Linked DNA regions of Homo sapiens. The protein of the gene in region 1 purifies or fractionates together with the protein of each later gene. This does not show direct contact. Each region holds a gene or a part of one and is shown on either strand. Other genes may lie near its edges. The genes, in order: GAB3 and MIPEP.

Evidence for each region.
Region 2: the proteins of GAB3 (region 1) and MIPEP purify together in Homo sapiens (affinity purification with mass spectrometry; one large-scale study listed by BioGRID and IntAct). This does not show direct contact.

Annotation. Positions count from the first base shown.
Region 1 is NC_000023.11:154,716,490-154,720,311, forward strand, and holds part of GAB3 (GRB2-associated-binding protein 3), read right to left. Parts: intron 1-3,822.
Region 2 is NC_000013.11:23,840,893-23,844,714, reverse strand, and holds part of MIPEP (mitochondrial intermediate peptidase), read left to right. Parts: intron 1-3,226; coding exon 3,227-3,380; intron 3,381-3,822. UniProt on the Homo sapiens protein: Cleaves proteins, imported into the mitochondrion, to their mature size.

The DNA.
Region 1 (3,822 bases):
TCCGCTTTATTGGATGATTTTAAGGACGGGTCAGGATTGGAGAGTCTAGTAATGGGATTCACACCCACAGTTTGAAGGGCCAGAATTATACAATCATTGAAATTGATGCAGCAAAGGAATGTAGTACAAATTTAACATATGCTGAAGCTTTAAAAGAATCTTAGCAATAAAGAACTAGAAGGAAGCTTTCTTACTATTATGTATCTCAGTTCAAGAGCCAATATCATACATTAAAATCAGATGAAAATCACAAATGCTCACCACTGCCCCAGTATCTTCCAACATTGCTATTTAAGTTCTACACAACTGGCCAAGAAGGAAAATCATACACATTGGAGAGGAGGAGAGAAGATTGCCAGTGTCTGAAGGTGACAAATTGTCTTCCATAAAACCCCCAATGATGATTAAAACACTAATAGAATTCTCAGAGAATTAACTAGCTTGGCTAGTTACACTTCCTATGTAAGAGACCCTTGTCTAAGCGCTTTACTGTAACCCATTTAATCCCTAAAACTATACTATGGGAGGGGTAACTATTACTATCTCCATCTTATGTCTGATAAAATTGAGGTTCAGAGAGATTAAGTAATGTGCTCAAGGTCACATAGCTAAACAACTGTAGGAATGAATTTGAACTCAGGTTGGGATGGAAGGATCGGTAATGGATGTGAAGTTAAAAAATAAAGAGAGAGAGGAAGTGTAGCCAGCTCTCCAGAAACATCTGACTGTAAAGGGGGAAAGCTCTGGGGTCAAGGGATTTTTTAAAGATGGGAGACTCTTAAGCATTCACCCCCTAAGTCACAGTGTTTTTCAACCAGGGATGGTATAATTCCTCTCGGGAGCATCTGAAAATATGTGGGTTTTGCTTGTTATAAAGGCTGGAGATGGAGTGGGGGGTGGGGCATGGCAGGATTGGCCTAAAGCTATCAGTGCCCCTGTTTTGAAACACTGTAAAAACAAAAAGGAATTTTCCTTAATGGAATAGGAATCTTGGAAAGAGCCAAGCCTGGAAGTCAGATGAACAGGTAAAGCTCAGTCCATGCTCAGAAAAGAAAAGAGAATGATATTCCACAGAAACCAGTGCCAAGATTTGACAGGTCTCTTTTTGTGCCCTGAGAACAACTGAGAATGACCTAGGGCTCCTTGGCTTCCCACTCACCATTGACTTAGAATTTTTGATGTAGACAGTACCATCTTGGCTCAGTACAAAGAAAGGGTGCAGATCTCTGGCCTGGGGAAAGAGGTATTTACAATTGACCAAAGCCCTAGGGAGTCCCCTGGATCTGTAAACCTCCCTGCCCTCTCATGGAGCCAGGGGGAAGGAAATGTTTGAGTTCCTTGTCTTACATTTAGGTGCCCTTTGTTCATCGAAGGGCCAGATAGGCCAGCCTGCATGGATAGCGTATCCTTACTTTCTGCGGTAGGGAACTATGGCATTAGCCCCAGTTGGGAATTGAGCACAGAGAAGGATGACGGCTGACCGCAGGGAGATTTATAGCTCTGTGGTTTTTCTCTCCCATGCGGTAGCATGTGTGACAGCAGGAAGTGTGGGGTTCTGCCAGGAGGTACAGCGACCCCTGGGACAGGAAGTCTTTTGTATCTCTAGCTTCATTTATGTGTGATACTTTTTAAGCCCACCAGCTTTGACCAAGAGGCCAGGGAAAAAGGAAAAGACACTATTTGGAGTATTCTCAGCTCCCTCCCTGCTCAGAGAACATGAATCTGAGATGGCAGAGAATCCAAAGAAGCACTGACCTCCAATTATGCCTTAGAATAAAAAGCCCTTCCAGGACTGAGGCAAGGGGCAGCAAGCAGAAGGAAGGCAGTCACTCCATGTCAGGTTGGGGCAGGTGAACCCTGGTTTGCTCCTGCCTTTACAGACAGTATAAAGCTTTGAAAAGAGGTCTGGCCATGAGTCAAACAAGGAGACCATCTCAGGAGACAAACAACGTGGTGTGATTAAGTCCATGTTTTTAAGACAGGAAAAATAACAGCATGTTTGTATGCTCGTGGGGGTGACCCAAGAGGGAGAGAAAAATTGATTCAGTAAATTCCTGTTGCAAAAACGTGGCACTGGATGGGAGTAGAGCCACTAAACATAAGAGAAGGAGCTCAAGTTTTGCTGTGGGGTTTGAAAGTGGGAAACCTGGGCTTCTGGCATCAACTGAGGCAAACAGGAACATAAGGCCTAGTCCAGGGAAGGGGCTCAGGGGATGAGAGAATGCCATTTGTGCCTGCTGAGGAAAGCTTTCATGGGGAGGGAGCATGGGGTGCTCCAAACTTTCCAAAAGCCACTTTGGTGGGGGAAATGTAAAGAGGAACTTTGTTGCACTTCCCAAAAATGATTCTAAAAGAGGAAGTCAAACTAAGCACAGAAACAAGTTTCACATTAACCGCTCTTAGTGTTATGGAGACAATAGATTTCTTATCTTTTAATAACAATATTGGAAGAGAAGTAACACCAAGAGTTTATTTGAGTGCCTACTCTGCACTGTGCATCCTGCTAGACAATGAAGCTAGAAAAGGGGATTAGAGCTGGTCCCTAAAAGACCTCACTCTCTAGCTGGGATAGGGAGAAGGGTAGAATTATGATATGGGTAGATTTCAACTCAGCGTAGTGAGCGGTCTAGCAGAAGAATGAACCAGGAGTGGTGGGAGTGCAATGGGAAGAGTGACATGAAGAAGTTTGGGCTTTATCCATTCATTCAACAATTACCTGTTGATAGCCCACTAATATGCTGGACACTGTGCAGATACTGGGGAAGATGAAGTGAGCAAGCCACATGCCCTGCCACTCACAGTCTCATGGGCAACAAGGGAGTGAGCAGATGGATAAACAGACGATTGCAATCAGTGAGATAAGTGCTACGATAAGGCAAAACCAAGATGCTATGGGAACAAACAAAAGAGACATCTCTCTCAGATCAGTTGTCTGGGGAGGCTTCCAGGAAGAAGTGGTGACTAAGCTAAGGCTAAAGTGGGGCAGGAGGAAGCAGCGTGCACAAAGGCATTAAGGTGGAAAGGCTCAAAACTTTGCGTAAGTAGTTCAGCAGGGCTGGAAGGCAGGCATGAGGGTGGAAAGGAAAAAGAACAGTCACACAGTAACTTAAATAGGACGTAGCATAGTCTTGATGCTGAATCATGCAAAATCGCCAGTGTGTCATCCCTTAGGTTTTTAAATCTCTACATAAGAGTTTTGATTATGCAAAAACAGAAGTGAGGTGTTCTTGGAGCTCTTTGCTAAGTAGGTAAAACCAGAGGCCACATATAGTTCTGTTCCACCAGGCTTACAGGCTTCTGGAAAATGGAAGACATGTGACAAAGCCCCTGAAAGCAGTCAGTCTGCCAGCACTAAAGTGAAGCTTTTTACAGTGAAACAATGCCACAAGGAATGACGAGGGCCATGTCAAAAGGACTTAGGGGCTAACCTGAAGAGGCTACCACTGGCCATATATGAAAGAATTTTTGCTTTCATAAATAGTCATATGCTGCATGACATAATAGTAACAATGAACCAAATATACAATGGTGGTCCTATAAGATTTTTTTTCAATCCTCCGAGACATCTGAATCCCAAAAGATTTAATACCATATTTTTATTGTACCTTTTCTATGTTTAGATACACAAATACCTACCATTGTGTTACAATTGCCTACAGTATTCAATATAGTACCATACTGTACAGGTTTGTAGCCCAGAAGCAACAGGCTATAACATATAGCCTAGGTGTGTAGTAAGCTAGGTTTGTGTAAGTACACCCTGTGATGTTTGCAAAGTGACTAAATCACCTAATGACACATTTCTCAGAACATATGCCCGTC
Region 2 (3,822 bases), on another chromosome or scaffold:
GCTTTACTGTGTTTCTTTTCCATAAAAATAAATGTTCATTATAATCTTAAGAAGGGTAGAATTTTAATATGTAAAGTTTCTTTTTATTCTCCTTTATTTTTGTGTTTTTATTGTCTGGAAACAAAAAAATGAATTGCTTTTTATAACCAATTATAGTTTAAACTTTCTTGCCTTGGTAGTAGGTTCTATGGGAGGTTTCTGCTCTGGTAAGCTGTGATTCTCTATGGCTGCCTGCCTTTCTTTCCAGTTTTGGGGGCAGCAGTTTGCTCTGTGGCCTTGATTCTCTGCTGAATCTAAGAAGATTCTTGATTTTCAGCTTGTTCAGCTTCCTGCTTGTTAGGATGGAGTGGTGACTTTCAACCTCCTCATGTGCAGGAGTGGAAACCTCAAGCCTGGACCACTTCCTTTTATAGTTTATTTTCTCCCCTCTTTCCATGCACTCCTTTCTCTCAGTTCTTCAGTACCTCTGAACTGTTCTGTGTCTTCCTTCCCACCCCTCCCTCTGGTAGTTCAGGGGTCTGCCCTTTACCTTCTCTGCCCGCATCGCCCTTCCCTAATGGCCCTGTCTCCCTCTATGGCTCTAATATCTGTACAGTGAAGTCTCCTTGTTCTCCTTAGCTTTGGGTCCTGAGTGTCTGGTATCTCATGGGCACTTCACAGTCGGTTCCTCCAAAATGGAGTTTATTTTCTGTGAGCCCTCCATCCTCCTCCCATCATTGCACCTCACCCTCCTCTCTTCTCCCACAAACACACCCAGATTCCCCTCTTCCTTTTTTGTGTTCATTGTGCCGGCTGATTCAGTGACTCTACCATCCACTTATTTGTCCAAGCCAGAAACCTGAGTGTTATTCTAGATTGTTCTGTCTTTCTCATCACCCTCCAAATCCAATCACTCACACAGTCCTGAGACGTTTGCATCTCAAAGGAAAAACACATTCATCCCTGACCCCACTGCCCTCTGTCAGAGTTCACCCTCTGAAGCCTGGAAGTCTGTCCTCCTGTCAGCCCTCCCTGCCTCCTGCATTCCACCCTCCATGCTGTCCACTGTGCAGCATTCCAGAAAACATCAGATGCTCCCCTATGGCCTACAGAAGCTGTCTCCCAAATGGCATCTGTAAGCAATTCATTGAGAGTGTAGTCATAAAATATTAGAAATTCTATGTATATTTATTTTTCTTTATCTCAACTTATAAAAATGTCTGCTTTTCTTTTTGCAATGTGATAAAACAATACCACATGCATATACTTTATGAGTGTACTAATAGAAGGTTGAATACTCAAAAGTTATTTTAGTGTGCATTGGTGAGGAAGCTTAGAGGCCATGGCCTATGGTGCATGGTCCCAGTTCCTCAGCTTAGTGGACCAGGCCCTCTGTTTTCTGGCCCCTGCCTGCCTTTTCCAGACTCCGCTCCCATTCTTTCTACATTTATCCCTGCATTGGTAACTGCTTCATCTTTAACCACATCCTTTCTAGAAGTTACCAGGCTATTTTATGCCATCATACTTTAGTTATACTGTCGCTTCTGCCTAGAATTCCTATTATGATTCCCATTTTCCATTCCTCATCCCAGCCCTGCCTTGCAAAGTCTGATTCCTTTTTTTTTTTTTTTTTTTTTTGAGATGGAGAGTCTTGCTCTGTCGCCCAGGCTGGAGTGCAGTGGCACAATCGTGGCTCACTCAACCTCCGCCTCCTGGGTTCAAGCAATTCTCTGCCTCAGCCTCCCGAGTAGCTGGGATTACAGGCACCCGCCACCACACCCGGCTAATTTTTGTACTTTTAGTAGAGACGGGGTTTCACCATGTTGGCCAAACTGGTCTTGAACTCCTGACCTCATGATCCACCCACCTCAGCCTCCCAAAGTGCTGGGATTATAGGCGTGAGCCACAGCACCCGGCCGATTCTTTCTTGATTCCTATCCGAGAAGCTTTCCCTGGTGCTACTCTGCACTCCACAAGTAAAGTCATCATGCTCTCCTTTGCCCTCCCATTTTGCAGTGCTCATTCGTTCATGCTTCAGCACTGTCTGTTGAGCGCCAGCCGTGTGCCCACTGCACCAGGCCCAGGACACAGTGTAGTTGGTTCACTTCTCTGCCTCTTTCAGTGCCAGCTGCTTAGACACAAAGGCTCTTCATTCTTCTCTTCCAGCACCCCGCAGGTTTGCTGACAGCATGCTTGAGTGAACGAACCAGGGAGCGAGGGCACTGGATCATGAACGTCTCTTTCAACACTAGGATTCTGTTTAAAGAAAAATCAGTCAGAAATTAAGGTGTAAATTTGTGGATGTCCATAGCCAAAGTCTCATTTGTTGTGCAATTTATGTTCACTTACTAAACTCATTCATTTATTAGTAACTATGTTTTTATATTTTTATATATAAATTTGTTGTGGGGACTCATTTTATGGAACGAAGTGTTGTGCAGTTCTAGAATCACAAATAAAGCCAATTGAAAAAAAAATGTGTATTTTGGTAATCCTAAAAAGTAGACATATAATGAGAACCTACAATATTCTAGAGCCATTATTTTTGGCTATGGCTATATATTTTGGCTTGACTTAATGATTCAAATGTAAACATTCAAATCACGTATTTTGGATTTGCTTTGGTTTATATTGGAATATATAGAACAGAAAAAGTTATTTTTGGGTGAAGAATAATTCACCTTACTAGTTACGTTGTCTTTAATTTAAGATATCTAACTATAAAACAGATAAGATCTGATTATTTATATTGCAGGCATTTTTTTCATAAATGAATATTTTACTGGATGAGAACTTTAAATTCACTTAATGTGCCTCAGGATTTTTATTCATTTAATATTTATGTATATAGGTCACAAGTTTCTAGAATATAATTCATAAGGTAAGAGTTACCATTATAACTGAAACTGATCATATTTTGCATGTAAGTATGTATAAGGAATGTATACAGTGAGCAGTTGAGACTGCTTAATTGGGTTAGTGAAAGAGTAAATAACAGGGAAGGGACAAAGGTTAGGGAATGATATATCTACCTTAATTACTGACTTATAACTAACACTAGTAATAATCAGACTGTCATTCTGAAGAAAACTGTCTGAAAACCCCTCAAATGATATAAATACACTTTTATGTTTTGAATCCTTCTTTAGCTCCAGTGATCTTAAGTATTAAATGAAAAGTTAATTGAATTTACCTTCAGAAATTGAAATAAACAAAGATGCTGTTGAACCTCTCTTCCTTCTCTTAGGTATAATATTGAGCCCAGCCTATATTGCCCGTTTTTCTCTCTTGGAGCATGCATGGAAGGCCTGAATATTTTGCTTAACAGACTGTTGGGGATTTCATTATATGCAGAGCAGCCTGCAAAAGGAGAGGTGTGGAGCGAAGATGTCCGAAAACTGGTGAGCTCCTCCTGCTCAGCCTGCAGTTGCAGGCATTTACCTTTCGGTTGGGCAGTTGAGTCAACAGCAGTTTCAGGTTTACATCAACTTTGCCCTGACTGAGTGTGTCCCCTGCCTTATTTCTGCTTCACAAAAAAAATCCAAATTGCACTTCTGATTTAAGACACTGTATAAAGGATCCAAACATAAAACAGCAGAGTTTTCTAAAAAAGTTTTTTGGAACTTGATAGAAGGTTGAATATATATGCACCTTCATATATCCACAAATTCTATTTATAGGAAAATTGTCCTTTACTTTGTATATACCTTCATAGCTGTGTGTCCGTTTTGGTTAATTCCCAAATCCATTGGATAAGTGACCTTTTTTCTCTCCAACCCCCATCCCATGTTGTAGGGGCTTATATTTGCATCAGATATTAATTTACGTCCGTGTTCTGATTTA